Linked DNA regions of Homo sapiens: region 2 is linked to region 1. Evidence: fine-mapped expression QTL. A gene starts in region 1. The other region holds a variant in brackets. All regions are shown on one strand. Distances are from middle to middle. Region 1 holds the start of CTHRC1 (collagen triple helix repeat containing 1). Region 2 overlaps LINC01181 (long intergenic non-protein coding RNA 1181).

The links. PIP is the estimated chance that this variant, and not a neighbour inherited with it, causes the effect.
Region 2: its variant is the best candidate, but not a certain one, in a credible set for the expression of CTHRC1 in monocytes after LPS (Fairfax 2014, PIP 0.59).

Annotation. Positions count from the first base shown.
Region 1 is chr8:103,368,782-103,373,172 of GRCh38, forward strand. CTHRC1 (collagen triple helix repeat containing 1) reads left to right here and starts at 2,757. Exons shown (of 4, transcript NM_138455.4): 1 at 2,757-3,025. The coding sequence starts at 2,876. RefSeq lists enhancers at 2,417-3,211, 3,212-4,005 and a silencer at 2,641-2,760.
Region 2 is chr8:103,130,200-103,134,590 of GRCh38, forward strand. LINC01181 (long intergenic non-protein coding RNA 1181) reads left to right here. Exons shown (of 6, transcript NR_145429.1): 2 at 2,394-3,158; 3 at 4,198-4,391. It overlaps BAALC-AS2 (BAALC antisense RNA 2), which reads right to left. Exons shown (of 2, transcript NR_027071.1): 2 at 2,764-3,170. Among named protein-coding and RNA genes, the nearest start is that of BAALC, 8.3 kb to the right of the region's middle. The variant C/A (reference allele first, on the strand shown) is at 1,751.

The DNA of each region.
Region 1 (4,391 bases):
TCAGTTCTGCTCTAATCTTAGTTATATCTTGTCTTCTGCTAGCTTTTGAATTTGTTTGCTCTTGCTTCTCTGGTTCTTTTAATTGCAATGTTAGGGTGTCAATTTTAGATCTTTCTCATTTTCTCCTGTGAGCATTTAGTGCTACAAATTTCCCTCTAAACGCTGCTTTAGCTGTGTCCCAGAGATTCTGGTATGTTGCATATTTGTTCTCATTGGTTTCAAAGAACTTATTTATTTCTGCCTTAATTTCGTTATTTACCCAGTAGTTATTCAGGAGCAGGTGGCTCAGTTTCCATGTAGTTATGTGGTTTTGAGTGAGTTTCTTAATCCTGAGTTCTAATTTGATTGTACTGTGGTCTGAGAGACTGTTTGTTATGATTTTCATTCTTTTGCATTTGCTGAGGAATGTTTTTACTTCCAATTATGTGGTCAATTTTAGAATAAGTGTGATGTGGTGCTGAAAAGAATGTATATTCTGTTGATTTGGGGTGGAGAGTTCTGTAGATGTCTATTAGATCTGCTCGGTCCAGAGCTGAGTTCAAGTCCTGAATATCCTTGTTAATTTTCTGTCTCGTTGATCTGTCTAATATTGACAGTGGGGTGTTAACGTCTCCCGCTATTATTGTGTGGGAGTCTAAGTCTCTTCGTAGGTCTCTAAGAACTTACTTTATGAACCTGGGTGCTCCTGTATTGGGTGCATATATATATTTAGGATAGTTAGCTCTTCTTGTTGCAGTGATCCCTTTACCATTATATAATGTCCTTCTTTGTCTTTTCTGATCTTTGTTGGTTTAAAGTCTGTTTTATCAGAGACTAGGATTGCAACCCCATACAGGGCCAGTTTCATGGGCATATGACCTGTGCTGTCACACAGGGCCAGGCACTTAGAAGGACCCCACACGTGATTTAATGCTCCATTGACACCATTTTGCAATTCTGAATAATTTTTTAACAAAAGCTCCTGCATTTTCATTTTGCACTGGGTGGGGCAAATTATATAACCAGCCCTGGCTTTACAGTTCATTTGGATTTTTGCTGCTTCTAGAAAAACAAGTGAAATTTACCTTTAGTTAGTTACCAGCCCAGGACTGGGCATTTGCAGAACTGCCGCGACCTGCTTCCCTGCTAGACTGCTCCCTCTCTTTAACATCCATCAGCTGGACTCACCAACTCCGGAAAACCTGCATGGGTCTATAGGGAGACCCCTGCTGAGCTGAATTTGACTTCACAGTATTACCATCCGTCACAACCTCGTGTTGTTATGGGTGTGGCAAGACTTCTGTTATGCCTGATTCCAGCCAGTTATATATAAAAGATCTCCTGCTCCAACCTGGCCCTACGTGGTGGGTAGCCTGGGCCCTGAGAATGTTTTCTTCTACAATGGACAGGCCAAAGGAGGACAGAGGGGGTTACAAAAAGATAATATCCATCAGAGGCAAAGAGTACTCAAAAGTGAACTTCTACCATTTCCACTGGATATTGATTAACTTCCCTGAGCCTCAGTTTCCTCATTCGTTTATGAGAGTAGCCCAGGAGGCATCTACCCCTCCCAACCCGCCAGGATTGCTGAGAGGACAGAGTACGCGTGCAAGGTTTTGCAATGTGCCAGAGCTTAGTAAGTGTTAGCACTTATGAAAACAGCGTTTATATATCATTTGGGTCATGGGACTCTTGGAAAACCTGATGATACCTATGGTTTCTTCCTGCCTCCGCCCCACCCCCACCTTCCAGCCTCCAAAAATGTCACCTCCAAAAAACAAATAAGGCAGGGCGCGGTGGCTCACGCCTGTAATCCCAGCACTTTGGGAGGCCGAGGCGGGCGGATCACAAGGTCAGGAGATCTAGACTATCCTGGCTAACACGGTGAAACCCCGTCTCTACTAAAAATATAAAAAATTAGCCGGGGCCGGGCGCGGTGGCTCACGCCTGTAATCCCAGCACTTTGGGAGGCCGAGGCGGGTGGATCACGAGGTCAGGAGATCGAGACCATCCTGGCTAACACGGTGAAACCCCGTCTCTACTAAAAATACAAAAAATTAGCCGGGCGTGATGGCGGGCGCCTGTAGTCCCAGCTACTCGGGAGGCTGAGGCAGGAGAATGGCGTGAACCCGGGAAGCGGAGCTTGCAGTGAGCCGAGATCGCGCCACTGCACTCCAGCCTGGGCGACAGAGCGAGACTCCGTCTCAAAAAAAAAAAAAAAAAAAAAAAAAAAAAAATTAGCCGGGCGTGGTGGCGGGTGCCTGCAGTCCCAGCTGCTCTGGAGGCTGAGGCAGGAGAATGGCGTGAACCCGGGAGGCGGAGCTTGCAGTGAGCCTAGATGGCGCCACTGCACTCCAGCCTGGGCGACAGAGCGAGACTCTGTCTCAAAAACAAACAAACAAACAAAAAACAAATAAGACTCGCCGACCCATGCCATAGATTGACGACCCTTGAAGGTGGCTCGTGTACCCAGGTTAAGCCACGTGTCTCTAAAATGTTCATTTAGGCGGCGCTGTGTTACCTGCGGGAATCCCCGACCTGCGGCTCCTGACCACGGGCCACCCCGCCCAGACCCTGCAGGCGGGCTCTCCACGAGGGTCTGCGCAGCCCCGCGGGGGTCCTGACAGGCCGAGCGACTGCAGTAGGAGGGGGCGGGCCCGGCTCTCGGTCCGCCCCCACGCCGGGCTCGGGGTGGGGGCTCGGGGCCTATTACGGGATGGAAGCTCCGGGTGTCGCGGGGGCGGGAGGAATTAAGGGAGGGAGAGAGGCGCGCGGGTGAAAGGCGCATTGATGCAGCCTGCGGCGGCCTCGGAGCGCGGCGGAGCCAGACGCTGACCACGTTCCTCTCCTCGGTCTCCTCCGCCTCCAGCTCCGCGCTGCCCGGCAGCCGGGAGCCATGCGACCCCAGGGCCCCGCCGCCTCCCCGCAGCGGCTCCGCGGCCTCCTGCTGCTCCTGCTGCTGCAGCTGCCCGCGCCGTCGAGCGCCTCTGAGATCCCCAAGGGGAAGCAAAAGGCGCAGCTCCGGCAGAGGGAGGTGGTGGACCTGGTGAGTCCGAGGGAGCCGAGCCGGGACCGCCGCGCTGGTGGAGGGGACCTGGCCGCGCGCCCCACGGGCAGGGCGTCAGTCTGGCTGTTGGGGGTGTCTGTCTGTACAGCTGTGTGTCGTGTGTCTTGCTGCGCCGGGGTGTCATGCTTTTTATTTACAGGTGAAGAAGGACCTGGTTATGCGTGCAGTGAGTCTTGGAACTCAGAGGGGAGACCAAAATGGGAGGCCATCGTGGAGCGGACATGCGATATGGGCCCGGTGGGTCTCCCCGAAGTACAGGGAGTCCCCCAATAATTTCTGGCCCCAGGGGGACCCCTTGGGAAGGGTGGGAGGGATAGGGCGGCAGTGAGAGTAGGATGAGGAGCTTGGGTACGTCCGAAGTGGACCTGGGAAAAACCCTGGCCTCGCTGATCACATGGACCTGGGCCTGGGCCAGGGCGGTGCAACGTGTCCTTTGTTGGGGCTGGTGGCCACGTCTGCCTGCGAGAGAGAATAACAACCCCCACAAAGCATCCGTCCAACTCTTTGTAACTTGAAGACTATGAGTCACGTTGGGTCATCTTCCTAGGGAGTATGGGCTGCAATTTACTTTGTTGGACAACCACAGCTGGGGCTAGGAATGGTTCAGAAGGTTTAAGGCCGGAAAGGGAAATGAAGGGGCCCGGCGCTAACCCTCTAAGGACCTGTTTTGCTTCTGTTTAAACCAAATGGGCAGTCTGTCATTACACACACCCTGGGTCTTCATATGTGGCCGCCAGGTAGGAGCATCACAGTCAAGCTACGGGAGAAAACAGTTTCCAGGAAACTGGAAATGAACGGCCCGAGTGCTTTCCAGGGGCTCATCTGTGGGAAGGTATGTTTGCTTAAAATCCTTCCCTCTAAAAATCAACAAACCCAGTGGAGGGCGGAGAGGTTCTCTGGCCTGTGGTATGAGGGAGCCTTTCAGAGCTACCGTAGTCCTTGGCATATTATAAACTTCAGTCTCACTTGCAGACAAACATGATTTACAGGCATTGCAAGACATAAGTTGGGGCATTTTTTTTTAATTAAAAAGAAAGTTTTGAATTTGTTAAGCTGCCATTTTAAACTGAGCTAATATACCAAGTTCCCTGGCAGCTAGTTCTGTATTGGATTCAAAAGTGCTGGGAAAAAAATTCCCGCCATTTCACACAGCACTTTTTGGTGGTAGGCTGTGTAATTTTGATCCACAAAAGGGGACTATGTGTTCAGGCAACAGTTCTATTTTAAGTGTCCAAATTATTAAAACTGTGCCAAATGAGTATGGTTCATGTGTAGTTTGCATTTTATGAGTCTGTAGTTATGATACACAAAATACCCATTTTTCCTGTGAAGCTTGCTATTTTCC
Region 2 (4,391 bases), 240 kb before region 1:
TGCATGTGTTCCCATCTACTCATTAACCCACTTGCTCTGGCTGTGAAGCTACCCCTCCACTGCCACTTTTACCAAATTCACCAGTGATGTTCATGTTCCCAACAATGGGCTGTTTTTCATCCTTGACTCACACAAACACTCAGGAGCCTTAGTCAAAATTGAATGCTTTCTTCCTGACAGGTGCTCTTCTCTGGGCTTTTGTGACACTATACCTTTTTGGGTTTGTTTTCTGCTTCTTTGATTTCTCCTCCCCAGCTTACTTCTCAAGTTCATTTTCCTCTGCCAGTCCTCTAAAGAGGGGTTTCCTCAAAGCGTGATCTCAGGCCATCCTCTTTCTCTCTCTCTATGTCTACCACTTTCTCCTTAGGAAATTGCACACTTTGTTCATGGCTCCAACACTGATCTTCTTTTGATTCTTCATCTTCTCTATCTAATTGCCTACTTGTCTCCCAGGCATGTTTAACTCAAAATATCCAAAACAGACATCCTGATTTTTTTTTCTCCAAATTTATTCCTCATTAAGTCTTCCTCACCTACCTAGATATACAAGCAGAAACTGGAAAGTCATTCTTGTTTTCTCCCTCTTCCTTACTTCTGACATTTAAAATATCAGCAAGGCTTCTTACTCTACCTCCAGAATGTGTCTTGAATCTATCCATTTTCTCCATCATCACTGCCACTGCCTTAGTGTATGAATCACTATTATCTCTTGCCTTGACTATTGTAACAATCTCCAAACTGATTTCCCTGCTTTTTCTCTGGGCTCCCCAAATCAGTTCTCCATACGAGTGATCTTTTATTTCTTTTCTTCTCTATCTCTTTTTTTTTTTTTTTTGAGACAGTCTCACTTTGTCACCCAGGCTGCAGTGCAGTGTTGTGATCTCAGCTCACTGCAGCTTCCACCTCCTGGGTTCAAGTGATTCTCCTGCCTCAGCCTCCCGGGCAACTGGGATTACAGGTGCATGTCACCATGCCCAGCAATTTTTTGTTTTTGTTTTTGTATTTTTAGTACAGACAGGGTTTCACCATGTTAGCTAGATTGGTCTTGAACTCCTGACCTCAAGTGATCCACCCACCTCAGTCTCCCAAAGTGCTGGGATTATAGGCATGAGTCATCGCTCCCAGCCACAAGTGATATTTCAAAAACAGAAAATCAAATTATTCTCTCTTTTAATGAAAATACTTTTCATTGCCCCTAAAACAAAATCCAAACTTGTTACCATGTTTTCTGCACCAGACTTGCTTTTCCCACTAGGGCCCCTTGTTAATTCCCTGGATGCTACCACTTCTGGGTACTAGTCTCCTGCTAGGACATGGAGCTCTAGAGGTGCCAAAGCACATCTCTCTCCCACTTTTGTACATGTTGCTTCTGGTCAGAAGAGTGCCAAATGAGTGGAATCTATCCCTGAACATCAAAGAGCTTTGAGTGAAATTATTTTCCAAGTTTCACTTATAGCCTCCTCCTTTCTATAGGATTTGGCCACAGGTTCACGGAGGAAGGGAATTTGGGGAGCCGAGGAATGAGCGGGGCAGGAAGCACATACGAACGTCCTGCACCAGGCTGCACTAAGAACCTTCCCTCTGTTTGATGGCTAAGGCCTTGCTTTGTGAGCAAGCTTGCTGTCCTAAAACCTTCCTCCCGGAAGGATTCTCAGTCTGTTAAGAAAATAGAGGCCACCCAAACCTTTGTCAAGATATGTTTAGAAATATTTGAATAATTTAGCTTTAACCTATTCCCCACCACCACTAC[C/A]ACCTACTTTTCTTTAATTCTCTAATCACCACTATTCCCCCCTAGAATATCTGCATGCATTCTTGAGGTACATTGTCCTTTCTAATGTAGGGCTTATTCAGTAGGGTGCTTTTTAAATATATTTTTAAAAATCCTAAAATTCTGTTCTTTTTTGAGATGCTTTGATAAGAGTAAAACTACCTGCTTTCTGGCCTCTGTGATAGCAGCAGTTCTCTGAGATTCATTAAGTTGCTTGCTGGTAGCTGAGAACTTGAAATGCACATCAGTTAATTCAACCTTGTGAAAGAATGTATCAGGAGACAAAATCAACAATGCAGATAATTCAAACATTCTACCAGCCCACACATCATTTTTCCTAACTTATTTCTCCTCAGAGCTGCCAGGCTAAAACTCTGTGCAACATAGATAATAAACAAATTCAAATCATCATTTTTCTATTCATGGCCTGTTCCTGAATTTGGTCATATGACTGTTTATGAGGGAGTTCTCAACTGTGGAGGGAGTATTTTTTTACCCTGTTTTCAGTAACTGTTCTATTTTTCTCGATTCTGAATAGGATTACTCATAGCATAGATGCTTCTTGGAATTGGAATTTTTTTCTCAAGGCTTTAATCATTTCTGATTTTCCTCCCGTGAACTGTAGGACAGCACATGTGGCTTTCCTGCAATGGGATCGTCCTTCAAGAGGACCTCACAGGCTCTCCACCCGGACTGTGACGTAAGCAGCTGCAGCAGCCTTGGATGTTTCTGGATAGCCAGCCCCATGAGAACAGCTTTAAAATAGGAGACTGGCATTGTGATGAAGTGTGGACTTCGCTGTCATATAGACCTGGATTTAAATCCTGGCTTCAGTGTTTATGGATGACGTTGGACAAGTCATTTAACCTCCTTAAGTCTCAGAGTTCTCATTACGGAAATGGAGCTCTTAATAGTACCTACCCCCTAGTGTGGTTGTGAGGGTTGAGATCATCTATGTTCAAAGTGCTTATTATACAGAGACGGGGACATGTAAGTGCTACATAAATGTTAGCTTTTATTAGTCACTGGAGTGGAGGAGAGAGGACTGTTGCCTCCTTGTCAATGTCCCCATCCTGGGAAGCCTGCCTGTGTGCACCAAGGCCCATCTGACCCATATATCAGAAAAGGTGCCCTTCTAGGGAGCGACACCCCCCACCAAGCCCCCCAGTCGCTGTCCATGCTTTCCTCTAGGTTCAAAATGCAGCTGCATCTGTGCAGAAACCAGGTGTTGCCTGTGAGTTCTGCCTCGCTGGCCAGAGGTGGAAGGAAGGAGGAAAGGAGAGGGGCCTCCATACTTCCAGAGCCCCACTGGGGGTTACCTTCGCTTGCCCCCACTCTTTTTGTCTTGCTCTGAGGATGCCAGGACTTTAAGGACATTGTCAGCGAGCACGTAAGTTCACCCCTGCAAGGTCAAAGGCAGGACAGAAAGAAGACCCAAAGGTCCCAGTTAGTCAAGGAAAAACAATCACAAGAATAAAACATTTTTAAAGATTAAAATAATAGCTGCCATCTGTTGAGCAGTTGCTATGTGTTAGGACTTGTGTGAAACATGTTCACACAGTCTCTCTGCTTCCTCACAATACTGTGAAGTAGGTATTGTGCTTAATTGAACATAGGTTCATTTAAGAAAACAAATGTAAATATCATTCTAATCCTTGATTTAATTACCTCAAATTCAGGCAGAAGCAGATCAGCCCACCCTAATGGGCAGTGTACCAGGAGCTTCGTGTGTAGGGACAACTTTCACCTTCAAAATGCCCTGCGGGCTGCCTCAGCTTCTTTTCCACCAGCCCCTGGGCTCCCAGCTGTCTCAAGAGGCAGTGTTTTGCTGGGTAGTTACAGTGAAAGACCGGATTGTCCTGCTCATGTTACCCCCGTCTCCCTATTTACTATAATCAGGAAGTCATGTTTTTCATTTAGGATAAGGCAATTACTCTTCTGTTGACTGAAGTCCAGCAAAAAGCAAACTGAATCTCATTTCCACATTAATGCAATGGGGGCAGGATGGAGAGGCAGCCTGATTTCCTGGTGTCTCAGCCTCTCTCTTCTATATCTGTATCTCCTCTGATGGAAGCATCTGTCGTAATAGCAACAACCAAGATAGCATTGAGAGAGTAAACTATTGTAGTCCCTTTCCCTCATCTTGGGAAATGATGAATAAAAGTCACCATCTGCTCCCCTGAGCCTTGCTGTGGTGCGACCTAACTTTACACGCAAGTACAACGAATGACCTGCCCCATCCTAAGAAGCAGTAGAATAATATGAAAAAGACTTTTTTTTCTGCTCTGCCTGGGTAGACAAGCAACTCTTTGCCAAGGGAAAGGAATAAGACATATCATGTCTCTTTAATGATTGAAGATCCAGGTTAACTGTGGTAGAATTAAGCAAAGAGCAAACAAATGTTCTGAATGTGTTTTCTTTTCTCTCAGAGAAAGAATCTCAGTCATCTGGACTGCTTTGTGCTATATGAAAATCTCTGAGAACCTTCAAGAGCCCAAAAACAGTTCTCCTCCATGCTGTATGCCATGGTCAGTGGTTAAAGAGAACATTTTGTTCCACTCCTCCAGCTCTGCCTTAGAAACCCAAGCCCTGCACTCCAAGGCTCCTGGCATCGTACACCAGC